2 linked regions of the Homo sapiens genome follow. The protein of the gene in region 2 purifies or fractionates together with the protein of the main gene of each other region. This does not show direct contact. Each region holds a gene or a part of one and is shown on either strand. Other genes may lie near its edges.

Region 1 (3,548 bases), on a different chromosome or scaffold from region 2:
AAGGGGCAAAGAGAATGGGAGGGTGGGGGAGAGCGTTTTTATTGCATTTTCTCTTTCATTCTGGGGGGCTTTCTCGCCCCTTCTCTCCCTGCAGCAGGCCTCAACCTGCACAGGGCTTTTGAAGGAGTCATTTGGAGTCCATATCTGTCACATCCATTTAAGGCGTTTCGGGAGGAGGGAGAGGGTGGGGTGGCGGGTGCAGACTCCTCCGCTGAGCCGGGCCCAGAGGCCCACTGCCCTCTCTTCCCACCCTAGGGGTCCCTGTGAAGGTGACCAACGTCAAGGATGGCACCACCCACCAGACCTCCTTGGAGCTCTTCATGTACCTGAACGAAGTCGCGTGAGTGTCTGCAGCCCTGTCCGGCCTCTTGGGAACCGCCGTCTCGGGCGAGCACGAGCCTGGACCGTTGCAGCTAATGGTTGTGGCTGAGGCTCAGGGGTGCGGAGCACAGGCCATGTCCCTTCCCCATAGCCACAGAGTTTCCCGGACCAGGGGGACCCATTTGGCAGGAGAGGCTCCGTGGTCCTTAGCCTTGGAAGATAACAACCCCAGGAGGTCTCCTGCCTCCAAGGGATCATTAGGCCGGGGCTCTCAGGCCCTTGGCTGGATGGGAGGCCAGGATAGAAGGAAAGGGAGCAGTAGTTAGCTGTGGCGCTAGGCAGGGCCCCAGGACACAGGGAACGGAAGGAACAATGTGAACTCACACCTGGGCAATCCCTGCTCTCTCTGGGCCTCAGTTTCCCCACCTGTCCAGTGGGCACCTGGACTAGGTGACCCGGCTCAGATGTCCTCTTGAGTCTTAGATCCTGAAATGCTGCCTAATGTGTGGCCTAAGCTGTGCCCACCCTGGGACAGCCCAGCTGGGTGGGTGACTCTGAGCCTTGCGGTAGCGCCCGAACCTAATGGACCAGTTCTTCCCACAGGGGCAAGCATGGCGTGGGCCGTATTGACATCGTGGAGAACCGCTTCATTGGAATGAAGTCCCGAGGTGAGTCTGCTCAGCCTCCCTCAGGGCCTGCCTCGGGACCCAGCAAACCCAGAGATCCCTGAGACCCTGTCCCCTTTGGACGCTACTACCCCCATGCTCCGTGGGCGACCTTGGGCACGTCCTTTCACCACACCCCGTGAGACCGCAGTTTCCCTCCTGCCAAGTGGGGATCGTGGGCCCTTTGCCCCTGACTTTCAGGGTGTTATGAGAAGAGCTGTCCAAGGGCTGGGAGAGGCCCAGGAGGGCCTGGGGAGTCTCCGAGGAGCAGGGAGGCCAGGGCCAGGCCTGGAGGTCAGGCTGTCTTGTGTCTGGGGTGGGCAGGCCGGGTGTGGAGGCAGACCGTGCAGGCCCGATTTCGTGGTCATTAAGGCCGCATGGAGGCCGCCGGCCAGGCAGGGCGAAAATCCTGCCAGGGGTGGGCGCTGTGGCTGCACAGGCACTGGGAGCCGGCCAGGGCCTAAGGACCTGTCCCAGCATCAGGCACGGCTCACTGGCCCTTTTCTCCAGGGATGGGGCTGTGCCACAGTTGGGGCTGTGCCGCAGTTGAGGCTGAGCTTCAGTGTGACATGCCTGCCACCTCGGCTGGCCTCTAGCCTGCCTAGCCTCGTATCCGCCTGTGGCTGGGCCCAGGAGCAGGGCAGTTGGTCCCCAAGCAGGTGCCTCTGTCTTCTCTTAGTAGCCAAAGCCCATGATTCCCTTTGTCAGCCAATCAGCATTTCATCTTGACCACAACCCTCCTCTCCAGGACTCAGTTTCCCCATTCATACACCAAGGGGATCTCAGCTCCCTGAGGGTCTGCCAGTGTGTGATAAAGCCATGCTGTGTTCTTTCTTGGGGGTCCTAAGAGGGAAAGAGCAAGGTTTCAGCAGTTGCAGCCCCTGAATTGGGCACCTGAATTTTTATACTGGTGGTGGGGTCAGGGCTTCCTGTTTCGGTAAATGTTCAGGTCTCTTTGCTTAGGGTTGATTTGAAAAGATACCACAACCAAATATCACCTGGCCACGGTATAGTCACGGCCCCATGTCTCTCAGGCTATTTTTACTAAGATTCTAAAATCCAAAGAGAGCCGATCACCCCATGTGGGCCAGAAGAAAAGGGTGGTGGTCCGGAGGGCAGGATGCCTGCTTCTGGTCTCAGGTTTGCCCTGCCTTGCCCAACAACCTTGGACTTGTCATCTATCGCTAGGCCTCAGTTTCCCCAAGTGTAATGCGGTAGGCGCTGGGAGTTGCATCACTCTGGCTCTGACCTGTCTGCGTTTCCCTGGAAAGGCATGGCAGCATGGACCGGGGCGGGGACGGGCTTGCCTCGAAAGACATGGGAGCGCGGAAGGGGAGGCAGGCTCGCCTCTTTCTTGTGGCTTTAGCTCCTTGCTTGCTGTTATTCAGGAGAAACAACCTAATTGAAGCTCTGGGGAGGCCTTGAGAACAATGTTACTAATTAGCTGCTCCTTTTTATCCGGGCTTACCTTTGTCTCTTACCTATATTAACATGTGATTAGATGCCCCTTTGTCGCAGCCTGCCCTTGGGAGCCAGCGCGGTGTGCACCCTCCAGGGAGAGCTGGGAGGGACCTTGAGGAGCCACAGACCAGCACCCCATTTACAGATGCGGAAGCCAGGGCTGGGGAGGGGTGGGATAGAGGGCTTGCTTCAAGTCCCAGGCACTTTAGTGGCAGGACCAGGACTGCCATCTGGGCCCAGAGTGGCATGGAGTGGAGGGCTAACAGCTTAGACTGGAGTTGGACAGATCTGGGTTCAAACTCATGTATGGTGGCAGGAACTGGTACACTGGAAGTGCTCCATAAATAGCCATCAGTCCCCCGGGCATGTGGAATGGGGACAGAAGCAGCCCCCATCCTCTGGGAGCTGTCAGTGTGGCGGGGGGTGGGGTGGGTTCCAGTATTGCACCTGTCTTATCATAATAAGGGCCTGCCACAGGCATGCCCTTGCCATGCCTGTGGCAGGCATCACCAGTCAATGCTGGCATTATCCTGTTGACTCCAGAGGTATCTCAGGGCTGCTTGCAGGCACTACCAAATGATCAGGATTGGCATACGTGATGAAAGTGTATTGCCTTCCCTATTGGAAAGATAAGGACTGGCCTGAAGTCACTGTGAAATGGCATCCTGTGGGGTGGGGCGAGTCAAGCAGAGTTGAGCAAAAATGAACTGAAGGAGGTGGTTAGTGATGAAAACCTGGAATGCACTATTCTGAATGTGGAATGGTAGCTGACAGCATTCCACGGAGGCTGGACCTTTTTCCCAGAATGGGGGCCTCATCCCCGTAGAAGGTCAAAGCCATGAGATCAACAGTCTGTTCCAATCCCCGTGGCTCCTTACCACCCACCTGGGGAAAGCTTCCTGGAGCCCAGCCTTCACTCTGCCCTGGTACTTTGTGTGTGCTGTTGGAGGCTCTCCCCAAAAGCACAGAATTTAGTCAGTGTCGTACAGGGAAGAAAATCGGGATTCTGACGGCAAGAACTTGCTGTGTGATCTTAGGCAAGTTTCTCCCTCTGGAACTCCAATTGTCAAGGGGCCAGATGAGGAGGTCGTATCATCTCCC
Region 2 (5,759 bases):
GGGAATCCATTGCCATTCCTCAGGTTCACACATGCTTCCTTTCCCAAGGGGACAAGCTTGGCCTAGGAGGTAATTCTAGCATTGCCATGCCTCTGACTTAAATCATAGGGCAAGACAATGAAACTATCCAGGTCATGTTCCCCAGCTATAGGGAAGGCAGGTCTACCCTGTTTTGCACAAGATGTGTGATCCTGATTAATTTGATGGTTATTTAACTTTTGCAAACTAAATCCTTGTGTAAAGGCTGGGAACTTCCTATTTTAAAGAAATTTGAAAAGAAATTTGGCATGGAAAGATTTATTCCCTTCTTAATCTTTCTTCAAGTACTGATATGAAGGTATGGATGTGCTTCAGTAAATTAAATACCATTACCAGTGTTTAGTTTAGTGGTCCTGACCAGCAATGCTACTTAATGAAACAGAAGAAAATACCAGAATGCATCATATGTAAAAAGAGTAAGTATTATTTCATAAAATTTGTGTGTGTCTGTGTGTACACATATGTATGAGTGTTTAAGTTATGACATAAAACAAATTTCTTATTGTGGGTCACAGTCAAAGTTTAAAAGCCACTGATACATGGTAATATTATTTAAATATTTTCCGGCATATTAGGTATATTTAAGATGTGAGTTCCAAACAAGATGCTTTATTATTTTAAGCCAACGTTTTCCAAACTTTTTTGACTGAGGTTCATTGTAAGAAACACATCTTTGTTGGTGGAGGGGTGGGACAGGGTCTAGCTCTGTTGCCCAGGCTGGATTGCAGTGGCGAGATCATGGCTTACTGCAGCCTCAAACTCCTAGGCTCAAGCGATCCTCCCACTAGAGCACCAGGTTGGGAAGAGTGACAGCAACCAGGGCCTCAGCCCTCCACCCCATCCCCCAGTAGCTGAGACTACAGGCTTGTGCAAGATGCTTAGCTAATGTTCGTATTTTTTGTAGAGACAGGGTTTTGCCATGTTGCCCAGTCTGGTCTCAACCTCCTCAGTTCAAATGATCTGCCTCCTTTGGCCCCTCCCAAAGTGTTGGGATTACAGGCGTGAGCCACCGCGCCCGGCCAAGAAACACATTTTTAAGTTGTAATTTCATACTCACATGCCACACACATACAACTACACAACATAAATGAAACAAAATTCATGAAACAATACTTACAACCTTACTATCTATCTGCATTGCTGTCTGATATTTCCTACTTTGTTTTTTAAAATGCTCGTCATGACCCCTTAAACTGAACTATGACTTGCTCCAAGTCTGAAAAGCACCACTGAAAGGGCAGGGAGGAATGATTGTACTTCCTGACCAGGGGGTGAGTGAGAGGAGACCGCCTGCCCAGAATACAAGGCAGTGGGAACCAAGGCCAGGCCCGGTTCTAGCAACGCTGCCGAAGCTTCCTTCAGCATTAAAGAGACTTCAGTGGGGGAGGGCAGGAGACACTATGCCAGACACCTCTTCATGCAGAATAAAAAGGCATAGTGTAGAAATGAGGACCCTTCAGTGGGCTGACCAAGGAGATTAATTGGCATTCTGAACCAAATGTGTTGCAAAGACAGACAAGAAAGCTGAGCCCTCCCAAACAGTCCAAAAATGCCCAGCAGTCAAGTTAGCCAACAAACACTCCTCCTCTCCTGCCAAGAGTTTTCAGCGCCTTTAAAATGTTCTCCAAGTTTCAGCACCAGACTCCCAGCATCCACCCAGCTGATTCCTGACTTCATGGAACAACCCCTCATTATGGATGAGGCCTCCCATTCCTCTCAATTCTGCCCTCATCCCTCCCTATCCCCACCCCCTCACTGGGGTATCAGGTTTCTAATTTCCTTTAGAGAGGTGAAAGCACTTGATTGCCACCCTCTTCCCAACCTGGTGCTCTGGTGGAGGTGAGAGTCAGAGGCTGTTCTGCAGGACACCCCACTGCCTTTCCTGGTTGTTCCCCAGAGCCACTGATACAATTTCACACAAGAAAGGAGGTGACAGATGTGAGGAGCCTGCCACCCGTCCAATCCTACTCAAGTCCTAAGCCCTTGCCCACCAATTCTGTGCATGATGATTGGACCTTTCTCTGGCTTTTCCAGAAGGGGAACACGCAAAGGTTAGGGAGCTGGATGGTCTAATTCGGGGCTATGCTCTTGTGTCATCTGCTCAACTGTCTCCTGCGTATTAGCCATGCTCCCTAACCAGCTTACAAACTTCTTGAAGGCAGGGACCAAATTCTTCTGAGTACAGGGCAGAGCTGGATACTTGGATATAGTGTCATGCCATGGTGACAAGATCCACGCCAGCAGATACAAAGGCAGACAAAGTGAGCGAGGCAGTTTCCAGGACCACGTGGTTGTGGCACAACTAAAGCAACAACAGCAGCCTCTGCGGTCTAAGGGGTCCTCGGAGGAGGAGACGGCTGAAGGTGGTGGACAGGGCTGAGGCGGGCAGAAGGCGGTTGTGCGATTTGGAGGGTGGGGGAGAATATACTGGATCAGGTGAGGTAGAGACTGGGCAGCTGGGTCGACTACAGAGGTCGAAAGTGCAGGCACTGGAGTGAAGAGTTCACAAAATAAATATTCCGGACAAGGCCACCAGGCCCAGCAGGCCTTTTCAAACACGGTGGATAAAGATTTGAAGTAGATTAATTATATATCACAACAAAAGGAGATAAAAATTTGCTAAGACTATAAATCATCTGGGAGCGTTTGGGATCGGATTCTAGTCGAGTCTGGTCACTCCCAACCAGCGATAAACCAAAGGTGGGGAGGAGGCTAAATCTGGACCCCAGCGCTCCCCGCCCGCCTCCCTTTCCTCCGAAGGCTCCCAGGAGGCAGAGGGGCGGCGAAAGCACGGAGCAGTCTTGCATCAGACGAGGGGCGGGTACGTGTTTGCTGCCTTACGAGGGCTGCCTTCCCCTCCAGCTGCCCCAGCAGCCACCAGACTGGTTGGGTCTCCGCCAGCTTCCCCCCGCCCCCCGACCCCCCCAACCCCGCCACCGCCAAGGCAGGCTAGAATCGGCGGGGCGGCCCAGAACTTGGTTGGGAAGAATCGCCAGTCCCTGGGTTCCCCGCAAAGAAGCCACTTTGGGGCCCCTCTCCCGATCGCCCCGCGCGGAGGCGGTTGGGGGTTGGGGGAGAGGCGGCGCGAGGCTGCCAGAACAATTGCGCGCTAAGGCGCTGGGGCGCCGCGCTGGCATCCCGCGCTGGCATCCGCGAGCAGCCTGCAGGACCAGTTGGAGCAGCCCGCACTTTGCAATGCTAGCGGAGGCATGCCAACGTGAAAGACGCGGTTGCAAACTAAAAGAAAAGTTTGCATCTCGCCGCCGTTTGTTCTTCCCTCTTTCTGCCTCCTCCCGCCCCCGTTCTTCTCTACCCCCCAATCTCAGGAGGCCCCGGAACTAATTGATACGGGGTGCATGCGAGGGGGGCGCGCTGGCCTGGGCGCAGCCAGCCTTTTTCCATGGAGGTTGCCCTAGAGACCTCAATTTTCTCTCTCTCGCCTTACCTGCAGCTCCGCTATCAGCTCCTCTTTGCTAAGGTTCTGCTTTTCCACCACCTGCAGCCCTCCATCTTGCAAGATCTTCCGGCAGCAAGGGTCCAGGCTGTCACTGATGAGCACTTTCCGCAGATTTGCAAAAGCCATTGCTGGAGTTGGCCTCGGAATCGGCCGCTGTGAGTAGAAGTACCTAAGCCAAGAAGCTGCGGTTCGGCCTGGCGCGCTAGAGTAACTGGGCAGTATTCTCCAGCTCCCGCTCCCCAGTCATCTCCTCCTCCTCCTCCTCTTACAGTCTCCTTTTGATTGGACGGAAATACTCAAACTCTCCGCGACTCCGCCTCCTCCTCGCGGCTCTGAGGTTGCCAAATCCCTGCCCGCTTTATTATCCTCCCGCGATGAATTTCTCCATCTCAGCCAAAGCTCTTACCTACACCTGGTGAGCATATAAAAAGCACAATTTACGCTGACTAGCTGATGCATATCTGAAATGAACGGAGAAATACACCTCATCCTGAGAGAAAAACTTCATTTTCACTTTTCCTCCTAAGGATTCATTTATTAATTCCTTACGAAATTTTTTTTGAGTGGGTAAATGTGCAAGGCACTGTGCTAGACGTTGAAGGGAATTCGACTATCAAAAAGAAAATGTCCAACAATGATAGACTGGATTAAGAAAATATGGCACATATACACCATGGAATACTATGCAGCCATAAAAAATGATGAGTTCATGTCCTTTGTAGGGACATGGATGAAATTGGAAATCATCATTCTCAGTAAACTATCGCAAGAACAAAAAACCAAACACCGCATATTCTCACTCATAGGTGGGAATTGAACAATGAGAACACATGGACACAGGAAGGGGAACATCACACTCTGGGGACTGTTGTGGGGTGGGGGGAGGGGGGGAGGGATAGCATTAGGAGATATACCTAATGCTAAATGACGAGTTAATGGGTGCAGCACACCAGCATGGCACATGTATACATATGTAACTAACCTGCGCATTGTGCACATGTACCCTAAAACTTAAAGTATAAAAAAAAAAAAGATACATCCTCTTTCCTCTGGTGGCCTAACATCCTAGAGTACCAAACACACAGACTTGGAAAGTTACGTAGTGAAAAGCAATAGGAAGCTTTCTGAGACACCAAGGAGCTGTGATTAATTTCAAATTAGTGATGCAATGAGAATTATGAGTTTATAAAAGAGCGGGGACCTGGTGCATTTAAACTAGGCATACTTTGTTAAAGTTATTTATTTCCTTTCCCTCCACTTCCTCTCTAATTATGAAAAAGAAGAAAAGGAAAACGGGATGTCAGTGTGGTTTAATTGACCAAGGAGGCACTTCTCAGCTCTTAACTCTTTTATATTTAAACCCCATAACCGACGTGCTCTCTCATGCCCCATTTTACAGAAATGTCAGAAAATTCAATTTGGGATTAAAGTCACCTAGAATCAGAAGCAGAATCAGAGATGCTCATAGTTGAATTAGAATTCAGCTTTATGGACATATCCAGTCCAACTAACCATTGTGTGTTATGTCATCCTGAGCTATTCATAACTCAAGTGCTAGATCCTTATCCTACAGAACTATGCAATATCAATTCTATAAAGTAATGAAAATTCTATACAGATAATTCCTGGGCACAAATCAGATTTTTAGACACAATGTCCTCAGTGGGTAAAAAAAAAAATTGTCTATCATGTTTGCTTGTTCGGATGAATTGTTATTCCTACATTCCAAGACTCATGAGTATTCAAATTCTCTGTCTCTCTTGAAGTGCCCAGCAGTACCCTGGAGTCTAGGGACAGACAGGGGACCTATCCCAGGAGGCTTAATGGAGGGTCTTGGGAAGCATCCATTTTTGTAACTGCTTTCCTTCAACTCCTCCCAGGGCTCACTAACTGCTTCCTTTCAGTGTAGAATCTAAACCCTGCTATCATTAACATGTAATCCCACCCTTTCACACCAAGTCAAACTTCTTGGATACTGTCTGAACGCACAACCCAGAGGGCCTCCTAAGCCTGATCACCTGTTTTCTTTATTTATTATTTATGACCCACCTACTTTTTAAACAGATCCAAGCCACACAATAAAAGACACTTCTAAACCGTTAAGAAAATAATTAACAGATTAAGAGTCCATTTCCAAGTGAAAAGGAGGGTGTGTGATAATTGTTACATAAGTCAGAAATGTTCCCTCCTTTTAAATTTCTATAGAATTAACTTCAAGTTATCTCACAGTGCCTTAAGCAATATATTTATGAACTTTTCATGT

What was found. Proteins that work in one complex are often made in the same cells at the same time.
Region 1: the proteins of PHGDH (region 2) and ASS1 fractionate together in Homo sapiens (co-fractionation; one large-scale study listed by BioGRID). This does not show direct contact.

What each region holds. Positions count from the first base shown.
Region 1 is NC_000009.12:130,479,461-130,483,008, forward strand, and holds part of ASS1 (argininosuccinate synthase), read left to right. Parts: intron 1-255; coding exon 256-340; intron 341-924; coding exon 925-989; intron 990-3,548. UniProt on the Homo sapiens protein: One of the enzymes of the urea cycle, the metabolic pathway transforming neurotoxic amonia produced by protein catabolism into inocuous urea in the liver of ureotelic animals.
Region 2 is NC_000001.11:119,709,886-119,715,644, reverse strand, and holds the start of PHGDH (D-3-phosphoglycerate dehydrogenase), read right to left. Parts: upstream 3,712-5,759; 5' UTR 3,623-3,711; coding exon 3,485-3,622; intron 2,915-3,484; exon of another isoform or gene 2,847-2,914; coding exon of another isoform or gene 2,787-2,846; intron 2,734-2,786; exon of another isoform or gene 2,185-2,733; intron 1-2,184. UniProt on the Homo sapiens protein: Catalyzes the reversible oxidation of 3-phospho-D-glycerate to 3-phosphonooxypyruvate, the first step of the phosphorylated L-serine biosynthesis pathway.